Linked DNA regions of Homo sapiens. The protein of the gene in region 3 interacts with the protein of the main gene of each other region in a biochemical or structural test. Each region holds a gene or a part of one and is shown on either strand. Other genes may lie near its edges. The genes, in order: PKP1, JUP and DSG1.

Evidence for each region.
Region 1: the proteins of DSG1 (region 3) and PKP1 form a complex in vitro, tested with the Homo sapiens proteins (2 studies listed by BioGRID and IntAct).
Region 2: the proteins of DSG1 (region 3) and JUP form a complex in vitro, tested with the Homo sapiens proteins (2 studies listed by BioGRID and IntAct).

Annotation. Positions count from the first base shown.
Region 1 is NC_000001.11:201,278,881-201,286,590, reverse strand, and holds the start of PKP1 (plakophilin-1), read right to left. Parts: upstream 3,086-7,710; 5' UTR 2,889-3,085; coding exon 2,687-2,888; intron 1-2,686. UniProt on the Homo sapiens protein: A component of desmosome cell-cell junctions which are required for positive regulation of cellular adhesion.
Region 2 is NC_000017.11:41,776,707-41,783,813, forward strand, and holds part of JUP (junction plakoglobin), read right to left. Parts: intron 1-7,107. UniProt on the Homo sapiens protein: Common junctional plaque protein. The membrane-associated plaques are architectural elements in an important strategic position to influence the arrangement and function of both the cytoskeleton and the cells within the tissue.
Region 3 is NC_000018.10:31,321,071-31,328,177, forward strand, and holds part of DSG1 (desmoglein-1 preproprotein), read left to right. Parts: intron 1-5,510; coding exon 5,511-5,546; intron 5,547-5,803; coding exon 5,804-5,935; intron 5,936-7,107. UniProt on the Homo sapiens protein: Component of intercellular desmosome junctions. Involved in the interaction of plaque proteins and intermediate filaments mediating cell-cell adhesion.

The DNA.
Region 1 (7,710 bases), on a different chromosome or scaffold from region 3:
TCTGTGGCATTTCAGGGAGAGCATGAGTGCAGACAGGCATTTTGTGACAGGCTCCAGGGGCCCTTCCTCCAGTCCTCAGTGGCTCAATACTCCCTCAGTGACAAGAGAGAAAAGAGCACTAGTGGAGAGGAACTGAGAAGCCACTTCTATCACAGGACCAAGGATGGCTGGTCCTGACTGTCCTTCCTGGGGTACAAGGAGCAGTGGCTACTCTTCCAGGCAACCTGTGGGGTATGGTTGGCCCTTCTTAACTAGGGAAACTTTGGATGGGATTCAAGGGGCTCAAGAAGACCCTAGGTAAACTGACTCTGCTCTTGGAAGAGACTAAACAAGAACCTGAATCTGTCCAGGGGGCGAGGGAAAACGCCTGGGGCATGGTCCTTCCACAGCTACCAGCTCATTCCATTCCAGGAACCAAAGCAGGCTCCTGACAGGTAAACCAGCATAAGAAAGAGGGAGCAGAGTGAGTAGAGGTGGCCGCAGAGCAAATAGGGGACGTTTGGGTGTTTCTGATGGAGAAGACAAGGAAATCTGATGAAAACTAAGCCAGATAAACCAGAAACACCAGCTCCAAGTGACCAAACCGCCTCTTCCAGCAAGGATGCCTCTGCAGCCTCCTTTAGGAACCTCCGCAGAGTCTGAGGGTAGAGGGGACACGCCCACAGGGCTAGACCTTGGAGTTTCTGGAGAGGTAGCCATCAGCATCAACCCTCCCCCAGTGAAGCCCCCTGGGGGACCTTGGGAGGAAAAACAAAGAGGGAACAAAGGAGACCTTATCAGATAGAAGTTCCCCACAAAGACCAAGCCCAGAAAGTGCACTTCTTGCTGACAGACACTCAGCCAATATCCCGATAGGTAGGAGGAAAAAGGGGTCCTTGGGGCACCCAGGGCCGGTTTGAGTTTTCTGGAGTTGTGAGCCAAGAGCTCAGGCTGGGATGGAGTGGGAGTGGGAAGGGGACAGCCAAGTCTTGTGCAGAGAGGAGAGTAGGTTGAGCTGTGCTCTGGGCTGTAGCCAGAAATGGGGGCACTTTGTTATTCCAAACCTAATTCTAAAGAGGCTAGGAGGCACCTACCAAGGCACCAAATAAAAGGGAAGGAGGCAAGTGCTCTGGAGGTGGCATGATCTTGAGTGGAAATGTGACGAGAGGAGCCTGGAGCCCACACAAAGGCAAAGAGCACACAGAGAAGCAAAGGCCTTTAGGTCTGGGGCCCAGGAAGTCCTCTGCCGGCCATTTTCCTTCCCTCGGCTCTACAAGGGGCCACTCAGGAATGGGGGCTAGGGAGTAGGTGGGGGGACAGAAGCCACAGGTAGAAGGAAGTGTGAGGTGTGTGTGTGTGTGTGTGTGTGTGTGTGTGTGTGTGTGTGTGTGGTGGAAGGGCCAGGGTCGGTTTCTTTTGTCTCCTTCCACCTTATTACCCCCTGCCCCTCACTCTCTCCTAAGGCCTGTCTTAATACATAAGTCTTGGTTGACCTGTACTGTTTGGTAATGGGTAAAGTCTTATTAGCATTTTACTAAACTTAGCTAAATAAAATAAGTAAATAAATAAACAAGTGGAATCTTTGCTCACTTGTGTGTAATTCTTACCAGGCATCCTTTGTATCAAAGTGTTTACTTGGTCTATAAGCTCTCCCCTGTCAGGTACTGCCCCTTCCTCCTTGAGTTTCCTGGGTGCTGCCCCTTTCTCCCAGGTTCCCCCAGTCATGGGATCTGGCCTCTCAGAGGCTGGAGGAGGGGGTGCCAGGCCCGGGATCCAGCTTGGAAAAGTGCCCGTGAGGGTTCAGCTGGAGGTCTCCCTGGGGCCCGGGGGGATTTCCAACCTGCCATTCCGTACTCTCCCCATGAGACACTTGTTTCTACCTAAGCTGGGTGGGGTAAGAAGAATCCAGTGGGAAAGAGGATTTCTGCATTGGCTATTCGGGAAAGAAAGCATCCCTGACCCCCTTCCCTGTCGTCAAGGGACCCACTGGCCCTGGGGCGGCCTTCCAACTAGGCTAGCCTCTTTCAGGAGGCTCTCGATAAAGTGCCCTGGAGTTCCAGGCCCTCGTCCCTGCTCCCTGTGCCACTTTCCCGTCCCGCAGCGCCTCTCCTGAGCTGCACTCCTGTCTCAGCGACTCCCTCACCCCGCTCGCGGATACTCATGCGCGGCCCCACAGGGACTGGGGTTCCCCTTGGCCTGGACGCTGGGCATCGGCCTCCAGCTGAAGGCCAGGAGATCAAGCCCAGGAAGGGTGAAGGGTGGCCCACAACCGTTTGCGAGCGCGGGGACCATGGGCCCCAGGACAGCCGGGGCCAGACAGGATGCAGGGCAGATCCCTAGAGCAGCATCCGAAAGAGAAAGCCGTCCAGACCCAGGGCTCAGGGACAGGAGAACCGCTCGCGGGGGATCCTCAACCTCCTGGCACGCTGGGACATGCTCCTGGCTGTGTCCCGGTGAATCACCCATCCTTGCCCACTAGCGCGCCATCGAGCTCGCGGGGCCGTCGAGCCAGCCTCGGGTCGCGTTTACACCAGCTCAGAACCGGCTGGGAGCTCGGCTGCTCGCACTAGGTGCGTAGACCCTGCCTGGGGCCGGCAGCCCCTCGCCTCCCCTCATCCCCGGGGATGCGTGCGTCTCTTGGTCCCCGCCACTGGGCCAGGGTGCTCTGGAAAGGGGCGCACGGACCACGCGGGGGCCGAGCCTTTACCTCGATTGGAGTGGCTCAGGGTGGACGACTGGGAAGACTTGGACTTCTGCCGCTTGACGGTCATCATCACCTGCTCCTGCACGCGCTGCCTGCCAGACGTGCCTGTTTTCATCTTTTGGTCCGACGGCAAAGCCAACGTGGAGTTGTCCTGGTCCTGGAAGCATTCGTACGCCAAGGCGGTCTTGAGCGGCGAGTGGTTCATGGTGGCGGGAGGCGGGTGGCGCGCGGCCGGGGCCTAGGAGAGCAGAGAGGCGAGGCGAGGTGCGGTGCAGCGGGCGGGCAGGAGCGTGCTCTTCTCGCTCTCAGCGGCTCCCTACGGCCATAGAGTGCGTGGTCCGCGTGAGGGCTCCCTGCAGCTGCTCCTGGCGCTTCCACCCTGGTTCGTCCCTCTCTGGCACTGGCGAGGCCCGCCCTCCGTCAGACAGGATATACCACCCCTGCCCTGCACCACCCACTCCACCGGGCCGCGCGCTGCTGCTGCTCAGACGCGGAGCTGCAGGGCACTGCTGCTGCGGAGCCAGCGCTCTTGGGGGCAGGGCTGCGAGTCCCCTGTGTGGGACGCTGGGCGCCTTCCTGCTCGCTCTTTTTTTTCTCTCCCTTCCCTCTCCCCATGAGCAAGAAACGTCGCAAGCCTTGAGGCCCCAGGGAGACGCCCCTCTGTCCTGTTCTGCCGGCTCACTGAGAAAGCATGTGCTCAGCTCAGGAACCGAGGGAGACCTCTCTCTAGGAAAGAAAGGAGTCTTTCTTGACCAGGCTGCCCAGGAGAGCCAGGCGTCCATCTCCCTCTGTACTGAGGTCATAGCAGAGACCAACCCCGGCGGTGGAGGCTCCCGGGCTGATGGCAGAACCATAGCTCTTGCTCCAAAGGAGTGCTCCATCTTATGGGGGTAACCCAGTCTACTCTAAAGGAGCTTCCTCTGAAGAAAGTGGGGTAGGGGCAGTAAGGCCACATCAAGGAGCAGACTTGGGATATCAGACCACACAGTGGGTATGCCTTGGTAAAACCGGTGGTTATTTGTTGTTCATGAGTATACCCCGGTAAAACACCACGTGAACAGCGGATCCTCTCTGAAACTCCACTATAACCTCTAAAACAATGCCTGGCACACATAATATTAGGCGCTTAATAAAAAATATTTTAAATAGGTGAATACGTGAATGCTAGTTAATTTAAGGTAAATTAAATCTAACTCGGATCCTAACCAGATCCTCACTGAAAAATTGAAAAGCTGCTTTACCCTGAAATTTCACTCTGGACTTATTATTCTGGGACCACTGTGTGCATTCCCCTATATACACTCACCCCTGGGGACACATGTGCAGTGAAGCTTTATTCATGTAGCATCCTCTCCAGGCGTGGAGGGAGCCCACATCAGTGAATTTGGTGTGTAACAGGAGCTGAGTGTTTTTTTTTTTTTTTAAGTATTTACTTTGATGGAAATCTTTCTAAAAGGTATCGCATTCTGTTTGCCTCCTAAAGCAAACAACACTGAACATATTTGCTGTACTTCTTGATGCCCTGGGTTTCTCATTCTGGACATCCATTACTGAACTGTGTAGTCGTGCTGTCCGGTCAGTTTCTTAGTTTTGGGGCCTCCACCAGTGTGTGACACTATCACAGCCGTCACTCTTGCTGTCATTTGAGGCTGCCGCTCACAGCTCACATATTTTACTTTTAGTTTGCTCTTCTAATCTACAGAGGAAAGGACAATCAGAAATCTATTCTTTTTGGGAATTTTATGTCGAGGAAGGATCAAGAAGACTGAATGACTGTCTCAGGGACCATGTACATGAAGGTCACTCACGCAACTCCTGAGATGTGGGTGTTACATGCGGGGAGCCCCAGCTTTCCCAAGGAAGGTATTCCTAGTAGCAATTTGCAGAGCAGATTATTGTAAAGCAGATTATAGTTTCCAATAGAAACAGTTTTATTATTGAGGGCGCTGTTCCTAAGAACTTAACCTCAAGTAAACCAGAGATGTGATAAAAAATATGTCATAGATGTGTACAAAATACCTGTAAACCTCTATTATCACTTCATATTGTAAGATTCTGCCTCTAGCCATAGACCGCCAGGACTGGACAGAGCCTTGGACTTCATCCAGCCAAGCACTGCATTTCACTGATTAGGAGAGGAGGTAGCTTGCTTGCAATGCCCCAGTTAATATGTGGCAAAGCCTGCATCCTAACCAGGCCTTGTGACTCCTGGCACAGTGCTCATTCCACCACATCATCCAGCTTCCCTTATAAAAGTCCTATAAAATGGACATTAAAGTACAGTGCACACCGATTATATAAGGGCCCCAATGTACTGTAAAGTATACACAGCAGCATATAAAAATACAATTCTATTGTATCACACATTTGGCCTATCTAAAACCTAATATGCTAGCCATAATAAATGTTAATTACATCTTTAAATAACGATAATTTTCCTATTCTAGGATATAGAAGGGCCCTGAAGGAGGGGATTAGAGTAGCTCATCTTCCTATAAAAGGCAAGTCCGTGGAAGCAGAACTGATTATCTTTAAAATTGTTTCCAGGTATGAAGTTCAGTTTTTCTAGCTACTTCTCTACTATGTTAATATTGACATTATTTTGACATATTGATAGCAATAGCATTTACTATGCTCCTCCAAACACCATGCCTACCAACCAGGCATTGTTCTGAGCCCTGTACACGAACCACATCATTTAAATCCTTACAATGACCCTATGAGGTGGGCACCATCACCCTTCTTTTTCAGATGAGGTAACTGAAGTTCCATGAGGCCACCCAGCTGGCAACAGGCAGACAAGGCAACTGCAATCCAGAGCTGGACACTCAGTGGCAGTGCCAGGCTGCCGCCTCGAGATTTCTCTGTGACAAGCAGATCCTTCTCTGGATAGGTATTTTAACAGCATCCATTCCCATCACAGGGCACGAAAGTCAGGCCAGCTGGGTTCCTGATCTAGTTGTGTCACTAACTAGCTTCATGTTAGACAAGTGCCTTCCTCCGTCCCTTGCACCAATCTACAAAGAGAGCGGGTAAACTTCGTGGCTCCTAAACTCCACTCTAGCCCCAACATTCTATAATTCTGTCGATTGTGGGGATTTGTAGGGCAGGACATCTTGAATCAGGCCCTTCTGACAGAGGAGGAGAGGAAAGAGAAGTCAGGTTACACATTCTGGGCCACGGTGAGGGAGATATACTCAGGCTGGGAGGATTGGTTTGGGGCTCAGGTATATGGTTTTGAGCCAGCAGGCCAATGCTATTTCCATAATCTCTCTCTCTCTTCTGCCTGCCTGAGCCCCACCCTATGTGGGGCCTGTCTCAGAAATCAACCAGCAAGGAGGCTAACACTCCTAAAGTGAAGAAAAGATGTCAAGGAGGCACAGTCACATGATCCTGGCTCTGAAATGGCATGCTTTCAGGTGACTGTCAGAACATATATTTAGATGTTAAAATTCTAATGGATATGGGTTAATTTTGGCTTGGAAGGTGTTGGGGGTGATCAGGGGGAAGCATCCTGAAAGAAGTTAATTTTGACTTGATTCTGAAATAAGATGAGTATATTTTCATCCTCAAAGGAATGAGTATGAACGGGCTTCTAATTCTCTTTGCTGCCTCCTTAGAGCATTAAGTGTGACCCAGATTTCCCTTTCAACATTCTGGCTCCCAGACTTCACATCCTGTCATCTCTATGTTCATTAAAAAGTGAAATATGAGTTCATTTACTCAACAAGTATTGACTGAGCATCTGCTATGTGACAGACCTTGTCCCAGGTACTAAGGATACAATGGTGAGGAAGACAAAGTTCCTGCTCTTACAGAATTTACACTCTGTCACTCTCACTCTGTGCAGTGGTGTGTCTTGACTCACTGTAACCTCTGCCTCCCGGGTTCAAGCAATTCTCCTGCCTCAGCCTCCTGAGTAGCTGGGATTACAGGTGCGCACCACCATGCCAGGCTGATTTTTGTATTTTCAGTAGAGACAGGCTTTCACCATGTTGGTCAGGCTGTTCTCAAACTCTTGAACTCAAGTGATCCACCCACCTCGGCCTCCCAGAGTGATGGAATTACAGGCATGAGCCACTGTGCCTGGCCTAGAGCTTATTTTCTACAGGAGAGAAGGAGAAGGCTGGGCCAGGAGTGGGTGGGGGCTATCCCAAGGAAGGCTGAGAGGAGGTCTCTGGGGCTCCTGCTGCTTCTAAGAGTGTCTGGGCTGAATCTTCTCCCTTCTCAGTTTCCAGCCCCCCAGGTGAGGGGACCACCTCTAGCTGAGCCCCTCACTGACGCAAACACCGCAGGAGCGTGGAAGAGGTAGGTTTTCTTCCTGGATCCCTGGGCTTGCTGGGTGGCCCCATCTTATTCAGCCCAGTCCGTCTGCAACTGAACTTCCTGGACAGCGGCCACGGGGCCAGCTCCCTATTGTGAAAGCTTTTCTGGATGACATCCTTTGGCCAGTTAGCAGACTCCTCAATGGCTGCTCAACTCAGGAATCTTATAACCTTCCCTGATGAACTCGCACTGCCCCCTCCCTAGTCTCTAAATCGCCTCTGTCTTTTCTCCTGCATTATTTTGTTTTCATCCTAGCACTCACCCCATGCAGCCACCTGCCCCTTACCTTTGCATATTTGCTGTTCCCTCTGTGTGGAGCACTGTCAGTCAGTCACTTAAATACGTACCGAGTGCCTAAAGGGGCTGGTATCACCATGTCAACCCTGGGGATACAACGATGAAAAAGACCAGATCTTGCTCTCATGGGGCATATGTTCTAAAGACATAGACAAAGAGTCGATCTGTAAATGATTGCAAATTATATTAAATGCTATGAAGGAAACAATGAGCGGCTTAGAGGCTGCAGAGAGGGACAGCTTTAGCCATGGTGACCAGACTGTGACAGGCTGAGACTTGAAGCATGAGAGGCAGCTGCCCATCTCAGGAGTGAGGGAAAGGGCTCTGGGCAGAGGAAATGGTGAGTGTACAAGCCATGAACCTGGCATGTCTTCAGAACAGACAGACCAGGGAGACCAGGCAGG
Region 2 (7,107 bases), on a different chromosome or scaffold from region 3:
AAAACAAAAAGGTGAGGGGGCCAGGCGCGGTGGCTCACGCCTGTAATCCCAGCATATTGGGAGGCCAAGGTGGGTGGATCACAAGGTCAGGAGTTTGAGACCAGCCTGGCCAACATAGTGAAACCCCATCTCTACTAAAAATACAAAAAATTAGCCAGGCGTGGTGGTGGGCACCTGTAATCCCAGCTACTCGGGAGGCTGAGGCAGGCGAATCACTTGAACCTGGGAGGCGGAGGTTGCAGTGAGCCGAGATCGCACCAATTGCATTCCAGCCAGGGATACAGTGCGAGACTCTGTCTCAAAAAAAAAGAAAAATAATAAAAATTTAAAAAGGCGAGGGCTGGCACAGAGACCTGTCGGGCAAGGTGGATGGCAGTCTGTCTGGGGGAGCCCTGGCTGCTTTCTCTGACCCCTGAGATGGGGACTAGGTAGGGAGCTGCCTCCCAGGCCCTGGGGAGGTCAAGGGAACATGGCTGAGGAGAAGGGGAGTGGAACTTCGCTCACGCCAGGTGGAGACACTGGCTGCCCTATGCCCAGTCCATGCTGCTTCCTGCAGCCAGGGGCAGCTGCACAGCCAGGCGTGAACATTCCCCACATAGCAGTCCCAGGGGGAAGCTGGGCTCAGCAGGATCTCCAGCCCCCACCTTCCCCACTCTGTCCCTGGCTCCTGCTGAGGTCTGGCCAGCAGTTCCAAGCACAGACACAGACTCTAGAAAGTCCAGAGAGATGGACATGATGGCTTCCCTTGAGGGCCTGTTTCCCTCTCAGGCTGGGGCTGCCCAAGGAGGCCTCTCCCCTCTGGCTGGCAGCTCCAGGACGGAACCTCCTGCAGACTACAGGTTCTCTGGCAGACACTGTGGTCTCCATCAGCAAGCTGGTCCATTCCAAGAGGGCAGAACTGAAGCAGGAGCTGTCAGACAAGCTGGTCTTAGGCTTCCGGAGGAAAACCCTCACTTCCAGTCTGGAGAGCAGCCCAGGCTGTGGCCTGAGGATGAGCTGGGGCCTGGGGGAGGCTCAGGCCTGCCGACCCAGCTGCTGTTTATTTTCCTCCTTCTGGGCTCCTTCCCAAAGCAAACAAACCCGGGTAGGAAAATGAAGGGGATTTGTAGGAGAGGGAATTTGCCACGGCCAAGTGGCTCGACCCAGGGACCTCTATGCTCCCCTGGAGAGGGCTCCAGCTGGAGCTCCGTTCCCTGCTGGTGACCCCCGTGGGCAGATTCCCAAACTGGCAGATGACCCCAAACCGGGACTCCTGGGAATGGAAAAACACTTCACCCCACACCAGGAAACAACAACAAAAGGTTGACGTGTGTTGGTGACGCAAAATACACAAGTACTCTCATTCCACTGCCTCCAACCACCACCAGTGGGGCTTGGGCAGCCTGGGGTCCAGGGGCGGCCCACTTCTCAATAACAGCAGCTCCGATCCCAGCTGACTGAGGCCCACTCCCTGGGGTGTGATTCTGCAAGGATCCCTACATATAACCCTCTCCTGGGAAGATCCATCTGTTTATTGTACAACACATGCTGGAAAACCAGGATTGGAATAAAGTTTTGGCTAAAATCTGTTACTGTAGGCAGGGTGCAGTGGCTCACCCCTGTAATCCCAGCACTTTAGGAGGCCAAGGCAGGTGAATCCCCTTGAGCTCAGGAGCTCCAGACCAGTCTGGGCAACATGGCGAAACCCTGTCTCTACAAAAAAATGCAAAAATTAGCCGGGCGTGGTGGCATGTGCCTGTAGTCCCAGCTACTTGGGAGGCTGAGGTAGGAGGATCGCTTGAGCCCAGGAAGAGGAGGTTGCAGTGAGCTGAGATCTGCACTCCAGCCTGGGCAACACAGTGAGACCCCATCTCAAAAAAAAAAAATGTTACTATATACAGGGGATGAGCTCATCAAGATCAAGGCTAAAGAACAAAAGGATGTTGCCGAGCACGGTGGCTCATGCCTGTAATCCCAGCACTTTGGGAGGCCGAGGCGGGCGGATCACGAGGTCAGGAGATCGAGACCATACTGGCTAATACGGTGAAACCTCATCTCTACTAAAAATATAAAAAATTAGCCGGGCGTGTTAGCGGGTGCCTGTAGTCCCAGCTACTCGGGAGGCTGAGGCAGGAGAATGGCATGAACCCAGGAGGCGGAGCTTGCAGTGAGCCGAGATCCTGCCACTGCACTCCAGCCTGGGTGACAGAGCGAGACTCCGTCTCAAAAAAAAAGAAAAAAAGGATGCTAAGAAAAGAGGAAGAGACTTGGCTGGGCGTGGTGGCTCATGCCTGTAATCCCAGGACTTTGGGAGGCCAAGGCGGGTGGATCACAAGGTCTGGAGTTTGAAACCAGCCTGGCCAACATGGTGAAACCCCGTCTCTACTAAAAATACAAAAAACTAGCCAGGCATGGTGGCAGGTGCCTGTAATCCCAGCTACTCAGGAGGCTGAGGCAGGAGAATCGCTTGAAACCAGAAGGCAGAGGTTGCAGTGAGCTGAGATTGTGCCACTGTACTCCAGCCTGGGCAACAAGAGCAAAACTCCGTCTCAAAAAAAAAAAAAGAGGAAGAGACCTTAATGAAAGTTGCTTTTTAGGATTATGGGCGATTTTTTTTCTTTTCTCTTAAACTTTTCTAAACTTCCCAATTTTTTTTTTTTTTTTTTTTTGAGACAGATGTCACCCAGGCTGGAGTGCAGTGGCACAATCTTGGCTCACTGCAAGCTCCGCCTCCCGGGTTCACGCCATTCTCCTGCCTCAGCCTCCACAGTAGCTGGAACTACAGGTGCCTGCCACAACGCCCAGCTAATTCTTTGTATTTTTTAGTAGAGACGGGGTTTCACCATGTTAGCCAGGATGGTCTCGATCTCCTGACCTCGTGATGCGCCCGCCTCGGCCTCCCAAAGTGCTGGGATTACAGGCGTGAGCCACCGCGGCTGGCCCCCAGTTTTTTTTACAATGATCAGATATTACTTTTTTTATTTTCTTTCTCTTTTTTGAGACAAGGTCTCGCTCTGTTGCCCAAGCTGGAGTATAGTGGCACAATCATGGCTCACTGCAGCCTTGAACTCCTGGGCTCAAGCAATCCTTCCGCCTCAGCCTCCCGAGTAGCTAGGACCACGTGCACATGCCACCATGCTTGGCTAATTTTTTTTTTTTTTTTTAAGAGATGGGGTCTTGCTATGTTGCACAGGCTGGCAGGCTGGTCTCAAAGTCCCGGCCTCAAGCAATCCTCCTGCCTCAACCTTCAGAGCGGTTGGGATTACAGGTGTAAGCCACTGCCCCAGCCAGATATTACCTTCTCAATCAAGGAAGAGGAGGAGTCTCCCCTAAATAAGCAGCTTATTGATTGCCAAGCCCCTGTCCCAACTCTGCTCTGGTCCCTGCTACTGTCTCCATGGTAGGGAAAGACACAGAAAGCTGAGCTTCAGCTGGGCATGGTGGCTCATGCCCATAATCCCAGCACTTTGGGAGGCTGAGATGGGACAAATGCTTGAGCTCAGGAGTCCAAGACCAGCCTGGGCAACATAGCAAGACCCTGTCTCTACACAAAACTTTAAAAATTAGCTGGGCATGGTGGTGCACACCTGTGGACCCAGCTACTTGGGAGGCTGGGCGGGAGGATTGCTTGAACCCAGGAATTCAAGGATGCAGTGAGCTGTGATCACGCCACTGCACTCTAGCCTAAGGGACAGAGCGAGTCCCTACCTCAAAAAAAGGAAAGAAGGCCGGGCGCAGTGGCTCACGCCTGTAATCCCAGCACTTTGGGAGGCTGAGGTGGGTGGATCACTTGAGGTCAGGAATTCAAGACCAGCCTGGCCAACATAGTGACACCCCCATCTCTACTAAAAATACAAAAATTAGCTGGGCATGGTGGCGCATGCCTGTAGTCCCAGCTACTTAGGAGGATGAGGCAGGAGAATTGCTTGAACCTAGGAGGCAGAGGTTGCAGTGAGCCAAGACTGCACTACTGCACTCCAGCCTGGGCGACAGAGCAGGACTCCATCTCAAAAAACAAACCAAAAAAAAAAAAGAAAGAAAAGAGAAGAGGAGAAGGGAGGAGGAAAGAAAGCTGAGTGCCAAAAGCGGTGGCTCACGCTTATAATCCCAGCATGTCGGGAGGCCAAGGTGAGTGGATCACCTGAGGTCAGGAGTTCAAGACCAGCCTGACCAATATGGTGAAACCCCGTCTCTACTAAAAATACAAAAATTAGGCCGGGCACAGTGGCTCACGCCTGTAATCCCAGCACTTTGGGAGGCCGAGGCGGGTGGATCATGAGGTCAGGAGATCGAGACCATCCTGGCAAACACAGTGAAACCCCGTCTCTACTAAAAACACAAAAAAATTAGCCAGGCGTGGTGGCGGGCGCCTGTAGTCCCAGCTACTCGGGAGGCTAAGGCAGGAGAATGGTGTGAACCCAGGGGGCGGAGCTTGCAGCGAGCGGAGATCGTGCCACTGCACTCCAGCCTGGGCGACAGAGTGAGTGAGACTCCGTCTCAAAAAAAAAAAAAAAAAAAAATTAGCTGGGCGTACTGGCAGGCGCTTGTAGTCCCAGCTACGCGGGAGGCTGAGACAGGAGAATCACCTGAACCCGGGAGATGGAGGTTGCAGTGAGCCAAGATTGTGCCACTACACTCCAGTCTGGGTGACAGAGTGAGAGACTCCATCTCAAAAAAAAAAAAAGAAAGAAAGAAAGAGAAAAAGAAAGCTGAGCTTCCTGCTCTGCTGGCCCCAAAGGCCAAGATGCCAGGAGGCTGAGCAAAGGAGAGTGGTCCATGAGCTTGCCCTTCAGGCCTGGCAGAGGAAGTCGCTTCACAATAAGATATTCCATGTCCCCAGACTCAACCATGTCCCAGGAGAGGCCGCTCAGTGTCACTTGCAGGAACACAAGCCCTGGTGACCTGCCCAGCCACACTGCTTGCTTTTCCTCTTCACAGGGGTCACAGGACCAGCTCACAGATGCCTTTCCCTCTCACTGCCAGGTCGCTCTTCTCCCAAAAGATACAAATGAGGAGTCTCCCCAAAGGGCAGCAATTCCTGTCTGGCCTCCCTGCCGCACAGGATGGCCCTCATCAGAGAAGAGTCAATGCTGAGTCTCCACCTCTCCCTCTTATTTCTCAACTCAAGATTTCATCTTTAGCAGGCAGAAAGCCCCTCCTCCTGTCTAGACTGCGTCCCTTCAGTAAGTGCATCGGGCCTGCAGCTCTCAAGTCCTCGGGGGAGATGGAAAAACTGCAACCTCATGCCCTCTTTGTAGTAGTCAGTGGGATGGGGTTCATTCTGTTTTCTTCTCTGTCTCAAGTCCCATTAGCCTTCTCCACGATCAATAATCCCGTTGCCTGGGGTCCCCGCCTGCCCTCAGGGAATCCAGAAGCGCGGTAGTGACAGGTTCAGTACTCCGGCTGCACCATCACATAAAGAGAACCCATTTCCCAGACCCCAAATCCAGGCCCATTCTGGTGTCAGATGTCCAGTTGGCAGAGACACCAGAACCAGGCAGGTCTGGAGAACAATCTGACACCAGCTCCTCCCTAGAGGGCCAAGGCTCTGGCTGACAGGCAGCACACATGACCCCCACCTCCATCACCAGAAAAGCCCTCCCAGCAGCTGCCTATCTCAGGTCTCTTGGGCTTCAGAGCAGAGGACAGCCAGTTCCCCATCAAGAGCAGCCTGGCAGCACTGCCTCGTCAACTCCAGCAGGACATTAGCCCAGGCCTAAATCGGACTCTCGTTTCTCGCCAATCCCCACAGGGCAGCACCCCTTTATCTTGGCATAGCCCCAGCCCCCAGCAAAGCAGGCAACTCCCACTTCCTACACATGAACAAGCCCAGAACAGCCATGGTTCTACCTAACCCAAGCTAGGAGGCAGCACAGCTTTGACCCCTGCCTCCTCTTTCCCTCTCAACCTCCCCCCAACACTCACCACAGCCCTGGCCTTGGGGAGAAGCCGCTTCCACCGGAAACTAAAAATCAAGCCACTGGGGAGATTTAAGTGGGCTGGTGGCCAGGACAGGTATCACCCCCACCTACAAAACCTGCCCTACATTCACCACTCACACATGCCTTCATGGGCCCTTCTGAATTCTCTTCTCCCCAGTCAGGCAGAGGCTCTCAAAAGGGGGTGCAGAAAAATCCTTTCCGCTCACACCTGTAATCCCAGCACTTTGGGAGGCTGAGGCGGGCGGATCTCCTGAAGGTCAGGAGTTCGAGACCATCCTGACCAACATGGTGAAACCCCATCTCTACTAAAAATACAAAAATTAGCCTAGTGTGGTGGTGCATGCCTGTAATCCCAGCTACTCGGGAGGCTGAGACAGGAGAATCGCTTGAACCCAGGAGGTAGACGTTACAGTGAGCCGAGATCGCGCCACTGCACTCCAGCCTGGGTGGCAGAGCGTGACTCCATCTCAAAAAAAAAAAAAAAATCCTTTCCAGAGCTGCATGGGGCAATACAGCAGGATGGGTTCTGGGCTTGGAATCAGAGGACCCAAACGTCAGTCTTGGTGCTGCTTGGGTCTCGCTGTACAACATTGGGGAAATTACTTAAGTTCCTTGAGTTTCAATTTCCTCCTCTGTAGAATGCGAATAATGATACGCGTTTTTTTTGTTTTTTTTTTTTTTTTGAGTCAGGGACTCACTCTGTTGCCCAGGCTGGAATACAGTGACACAGCTCACTGCAGCCTTGACTTCCCTGGGCTCAGGTAATCCTCCCACCTCAACATTCCCAGTAGCTGGGACCACAGGCATGCACCACCACGCCCGGCTAATTTTTCTATTTTTTTGTAGAGACAGGGTTTCTCCATGTTGCCCAGGCTGGTCTGGAACTCCTGGGCTCAATCAAGCAGTCCACCCTTCTGGGCCTCCTAACGTGCTGGGATTGCAGGTCTGAGCCATCCAGCCTGGCCAGCCATAAGGATTAAGTAAAAATAGTTAATGAAAGTGCTTGGTTTGGGCCAGGTGAGGTGGCTCACGCCTGTAATCCCAGCACTTTGGGAGGCCGGGGCGGGCGAATCACGAGGTCAGGAGATCAAGACCAGCCTGCGCAACATGGTGAAACCCTGTCTCTACTAAAAATACAAAAATCAGCCGGGGGTGGTGGCACACGCCTGTAATCCTGGCTACTCAG
Region 3 (7,107 bases):
TTTCTATGGGTTAATATTTCATTTCGAAACAAACAAACAAAAAAAAACCCAACCCTCTGACACCTGATAAACTAACTCCACAGTTTGAACCGAACTGAAATTCTGTAAAATATGAGCAGGAGTTTTTAAGAGTACTTTCATCACTCAGGCTAAAATACACAGAAAATAATACACATTTCATTACATAGTTCCTAAACTTACTTGAAGACATCTTAAGTCCCCAAAATTGTGTTCACAGATGCCTAAAGCAAGAGAAGAACTAACAAATTAGTACAGACCAAACAGAAGACAAGCAAAAGAGAGAGCTCTTTGTGCTTTCTTGAGCGTGTATTATAGTGATATGTAGTATAGAGATCAGTGTTTCAGTAAAATATTTTGTAGAAAATGGAAGGAATATTTCTGTTCACGTATTCAGTGAAACTTACAAATTGCATTCAAGTGTCATCATTAACAGTTATATGGTGTTCATAAAAGCTTTATTATTTCGCTGTAGATTTAGGATTAGCATCTTCTATCACCTTTACAGAAACAAGGAGTACACATTTATCATCGCTCAATTGGTTTGAGTTGCCACAAAGTAAAAACATTTTGTCATCCCTGTTTTAGGAAAAGAGTAGAAACTAAAGCACTGAAGAATGCTGTCTTAAATCTGAAAGGCTGACCCTAGAATAAGATTCACTTATTTAACAAATCTCATCAATCTAGAAAATTATCTTATCTATACCCAGAGCACTTAATTTCTGGTAACTCTTTCTCCACAACACATTCATCAAAGACCTGGTTGCTGAGTATCCCTGTGTCCTAATAGACATTGCCTAACATATCAGCAGGAAGCCTGCTGTGCCAGGCACCGCAATTAGATTTATAATGCTCCCTCATCTCAGGGAACACCCTTGCCCAGTGCTGGGTCATGCCACCCTTGCTGATTATGCTTGATATGCAAATTCCTTCAATAGACTTAGACAGATCAAATTTTTTTAAATGCCATTGGCTGCTGATCCATGCTCTTAATTGGTCTATGAGAATAGGCCACAGTTTTTCATACTCGTCTAATGAGAAATCATATCTCTACAAATTAATGGTTGCCTGTTGCTCTCAAAACTGCAAGACTGTAAGTTATTTGAAGGCAGGTTCTGTGTCTGATTTGCCTTTGTATCCCTTATGGTGCCTTGCACCAGTGCAAGATTGCTCAAAAGATGTCTAATCACACACAGCAGAGGTACCACAAGGAAGTTTCTGGATAGTTTATACAGCTCTTCCCCCACACACTCCAAAAAATTATCACGCTATTAAACATAGAAATAATAATACTGGATTTCCCCAACATTTTAATGGTGTAGTATTAAATTCATTTTACATTTCACCTGAGACTTACTATAATATTTTCAGGCCTTTAAAAGTCTTAATCTAGTGTTGGATCCACATAATACACATTCAGTATGTACTTGTAAAATACACAAACGAAAAGAATAAATTAGAGAATTCAACCCATTAAGGTGCTGTCAACCTCAGACTGATACCCTTTGTCAGAGCAGTACAAAGGAAAGATAAGAGGAGGTTTTTAAATAAAGCAAATTGTGATATTTTAGCTTTGTTTCAAGTGCATCCTTGCGATGTATATAAAAGTTAACAATTACATTAGAATTGAATGCTTAACAAAAACGTAACAATTATGTTAGAATTCAACGCTTAGCAAAAAGTGACTTGGAAGACCATCTCACAATTATTAAATGCAAGAGATTTTTTAAATAAAAATAGCTTGTTACTCTCAAACCCATTTTTATTATGTGCAAGGAAGCATGAACTTCAATATTAAAAAGGAAAACATTAAAAATTACTGTAATTGGGGATTTATTAAAATTAGCCTGTGATTTTGTCTCCTGTAGCTTTTAAAAAGTACATAAATGGATTGGTTCCTAAAACAGAAATGAAGGGGAAACTCATTGAGGATGTATTTCAGGTGAATTATTTACTGTTTTCATAGAATTTTAGGACTAGAGGGGACTTTTAGTCTCATATACAGCTGAGGAAACTGAGCACAGATTGATTTAATGACTTACCCCAAAGTCCCTATCCACTGGGCAAAACAGCTGAGATATACTCAGTCAGCCTGATAACCTCTGTGTTCATCTCTAGGTAAATCTCCATCACAGCCTCCATAGCACAGACTCCAAACTCATTTGGGAATCCAAACTTCTCCCCTAATTGTCAGAAAATAACCTCACCCTTACTCCAGGGACAAGGTCTAGGTCATTTAGGAGAGTGTCCTCCAATTTCCCTTCCCCAGTTTATTGATTTTAATCTCCATCCACCTCACCCTTACTCCAGGGACAAAGTCTAGGTCATTTAGTACAATGTCTTCCAATTTCCCTTTCCTAATTGATCGATTTTAATCTCTATCTTTCCTTGCCTTTGTCTTTGAGGTCCTTTCTTTTTCTGCCCATTCTCTCCTGCTCTCCCTATCACAACACTTCTATGAGAATCTTCCTGCTGAACATCTCTTCTTTTAAATCAAAATCTCCTCCTAGCTTCTATCTTAACTTTCAAAAATCCTTAGGTTACCCTCTCTCAAAAAAAAATGCTACTATCTTGTCCCTCTGTTCCCTTTTATCACCAATGTCTTGAAAAAGTGACCATCTTTATGTCCTCCTCTCCTCCTCTCATTTCCTAATCCCTTGCTGTCAAGCAAGTGCATGTTCCATCCAGCTAAAAATATTCTCTTGAAGGTCCCTCAGAACCTCAGGATTTCCTCAGAATTCACTCTGCTCAACTTTTTTACCTCATCTCTTTCAACCCCATCTGTCTTTCCGTTTTCCTTTTCCTCTGACCTCCATTATAATGCATTATATTTTCCTATTGTTTCTTTCGCCATTCCTTCTCTCTTTCGCCACTCCTTCTCTCCTTCCTTTTTTTTTTTTTTTTTTTTTTCTTTTTTTGAGACAAAGTCTTGCTCTGTCCCCAGGAGTGCAGTGGTGCAATCTCGGCTCACTGCAACCTCCGCCTCCTGGGTTCCATTGATTCTCCTGCCTCAGCCTCCCAAGTAGCTGGGACTACAGGCACGCACCACGACGCCCAGCTAATTTTTGTATTTTTAGTGGAGACGGGGTTTCACCATGTTGGCCAGGATGTTCTCAGTCTCCTGACCTCGTGATCCACCCGCCTCGGCCTCCCAAAGTGCTGGGATTACAGGCGTGAGCCACAGCGCCCGGCCCTCTCCTTCCTTTTTTTTTTTTTTGTTTGTTTGTTGTCGTTGTTCCTAGTTCTATAAATGTAGGAACTCTTCTAGTTTTATCCTCAATTGCAGGCTGATTCTTGACTGTATCCTCTACTTTGGAAATTTCAAATTCTCACGATTTCAACTATCCTGCCTGAGCAGATCTACCTCAAATCTACATATCCAGCTTGAACTTTTGCTCAAGTTTTGATCCATGTTTCCAATTGCTGATCATCTTCACCCAGGCATTATCTGGCATCTCAAACTCAATGTGTTCTAATCTGCTAAATTCTATTACTGTCTTGTTCCCAATCCCACAGTTTAAAACTGCCATCCCCTGAGCTTCCTCCCTCTCTCGAACACCCCCATCCCATTTGTTCTCAAGCCCTGCCAATGCTATGCTGCAGTATCCCTTGATCTTTCCCCATCCATTCCCTCTGTCTCTGCTCCAGCGTACCTCCTTCTCACCTCCAGTCTGCTTTGATACAGAGACCCTCAACTGCTCACCGTCTGTAATCACTGCCTCTTCCCACTAGTCCTACCAACTGTTGTCAGAGTTAGCTTTAAAACCACAATTTTATCATGCTCTTCTCACATCTAAATACTTCAATATTTTCCTACTGCACACAGGCATTTAATATTACAGCTGGAAAGTTACCTGTATAAAATTTAGTCTACTCTTGTCATTTTACAAGTGAGAAAACTAAAGTTCAGAGAATTGGGGAAATACGTTGAAGATTTTCCAACTCTATCAAGAGTCAGATTTCACTATTTTGCCTTTGAAAGTCCAAGAGTGACTTTGTATCAGAGTTTATTCTAGACTCTGAGCAACAGAAAATAAGCTTACACCAACCCACCACATTTTTAAGCAGACTTGGCGGTTTTTAGATTACAAATCCAGTTGAGAGTCTGACTGTATGGTGAAAGCTACTTGGTCTTCTGCCCAAATTGTCTCTCATGGGAAAAAGAGTGACCCAGCTTCATAAAGCTGGAAAGATTTCTTAGTCATCTGCATAGCTTTCCAAAACAAACAGCAAGCACTGGCGCTCCAATGCAGTAAGGGAAGCGCAATAACAGATAACAGATCCATGCACAATTCTGTAGCTATGAAGAAATGGCTTTCAAACACACAAATAAGGTATGCCCATCTCCCATCCCACACTCACAAACAAGAGAGAGGGAAAAGTGTTCATAAATTCACAGGCAGCAAGGAGCATGCATTTACATGAACACCATTTCATCATTTCAGTTCTGCACCCAAGATGGGCTCTACAGATAACATTTCAGTTACATGTTTTAAAATTTGGGCCATTTACTTTTCTTTTTTTTTTCTTCATGCTGTATTCCTATTGTCGTATGTAAATATCACCAATCACAAGGATAATAGGTTAGTTTAAAATCAGAATTTTTTGAGTTCTTGAAGTTGCAATATAAATTCTTTGTAGCATGCTTTTCTTAGTAGTAATTTACTTGAGGGAATAGGCTATCTCATATTTTATTGTAAAACCCACAGCTCAAGTGAAAATTTATGCTAAATTGTATTGAATTATATTTAGCCATAGGTTAATATCCAAGACTCAATTTCCTCATCTGTAAAATGGAGATAGTATTAGTGGTGACCACATGTATTTGTTGTAAAGATTAAGTGCATAGATTTACATAAATACATAACCTAATACCTAGCTATTATTTAACAAATTATAAGAGTAATAACAATCATAATTATTAATATTAGATACACAATGGATATGTAATTCTCATAATAAAAACATTATCTTTTTATACTTCTCATATTGATCATAAATACTTATTTTCTGAATTATCTATTGTGGCAATTTTTTTAAAGTAGATACTTAGAGACATTAAGTTCATATTTTCTTTAATGCTACAATTAAAATTAACTATAAAAAGAACTTTTTTATATTTTTAAATTACTACTGTTAGTATTTTTAAATGTAAACTATAATTTTCTTATATCAGTTATACAAATAAAGTTTTCATACTTTGCAATTCTGAATAAATTCAATTAAAAGTTAAAAATTTCTTATTTAGGGAGAAATACAAGTACAAAATAATAGTAATAAAAAGAAGAGTAAATTGAAAGGTAAAAACAAAAATTCTTAGCATCATCATCAGACCCAAGACATAAACCAAATCCACCTGCTATTTGGCTGATAAAATAATTTTAATGACTCACAAGCCTATGGTTTCATGTTGTTTTTAAAGTAACTGGATAATATAAATTTTAAAGCATTTAATTAAAAAATAACTAGTGTGATTATCTTATTTTTTACAGGTGGTGGTAGAAGTTAACAGTGAATTCCGAATCCAGGTAATATATAACAAATCCATTTTTCCAAATTTTTAAACAAGAAAATAATTTGAGAATAACAATATGTTTTCTGAAGAAAATGTATTCTCATAAGTCAAGTTCATATAATGCTAAAATTAATAGATTACCAAAATTACCAATTTTCCCAATTAAACATCCTCTATTTCTGAGATTATAACCTCTTCCAAAAATCTCAGTGGAATTTGAATTACGAATTCAAATTAATATATACCATTTCTTTATTGCTGTCATTTAAGGTAAGAGATTATAACACTAAAAATGGCACCATCAAATGGCATTCAATCCGAAGGCAGAAACGTGAATGGATCAAGTTCGCAGCAGCCTGTCGTGAAGGTGAAGACAACTCAAAGAGGAACCCAATCGCCAAAGTAGGTATCAACTCCAAAGCATAACATTGAAAATCAGAATGGATAAAGTTTCAAAAGAAACTGTCTGCTAAATATTTCATGAACATGTCTCACCGAGAAGCTACGATACAGAACAGAACTATAGTCACCTAGATGATGAAAACTGAAACTCATAAGGAGAAATTAAGAAATGCAGGTGCTCAGAGAAACAGGCAAACGTTGACTCACCTCATTGGTGAAATGCATACACATGATCATGTGTTATCCCAAACTCCAGATGAAAAAAGATCATTATTTTAATAAAGAATTTGGCTTTCAGCACATTCAAAGGAATTACTTCAATGTGTGCTCTTTTTGCCTCACAATGTATTAGAATTGAATTCCTACTTTTTTGTTTGTTTATTAACATTCACAAGGTGCCCTCTCTCATACCCCTTTTCTATTCATTTTTCCATATCTTCCTTTCTACATACACACACACTCAGAAACACCCCCCACAAATTCATGAACATACAGATGTACACGTCCACAGATACACACACGAATATACACATTCATCCACACAGACACTCACAAATACTCCCCACTAGGATTTGTTTACAGCCAAACAATATTTTATTTCAAAGAAAGAGTTCTGGTTTCTATAACCATTTATTCGCGTGGTCTCCTTCCTTTTCTGCTAATACACCCTTCCCATTTTCAGAATTCAGAGCTTCCACTCAAACCCAGATAACTCTTGTCACCTAAATAAATCTACTTTCTTCGAAAACTTTACATTTAAAACAAATTGAAGATTAAAGTTGCATGATGACAACATTGATAAACTCCTTAAGAGGGCAAAGAGTTTCCTTCTGTAGCTCCAGTGCAAGCACAGACCCTGCAAATAATACAAGATCAAATTTTAACTGTTGAATGAATGAAGTCATGCATGATGATTGCATAGACTTAGATATAGTAGGGTGATATTTCGCATTTTTTCATGTTTCATAGAAGCAGAAACCGAATTTCTTTGATTACATTGTCAGTTACCATTGAAAATATTAGAGCTGTAATTGTTACTCTTATCTAGGAAAATAATCTCCATTGACAACATTTCCTAAATAACAAGGTCATCACATGCAACAACTCTCAAGAAAGCTGTCGTATATCAAATATAGAACTCTATTTGCTCCCTCTAATATTTTTACTTGTGT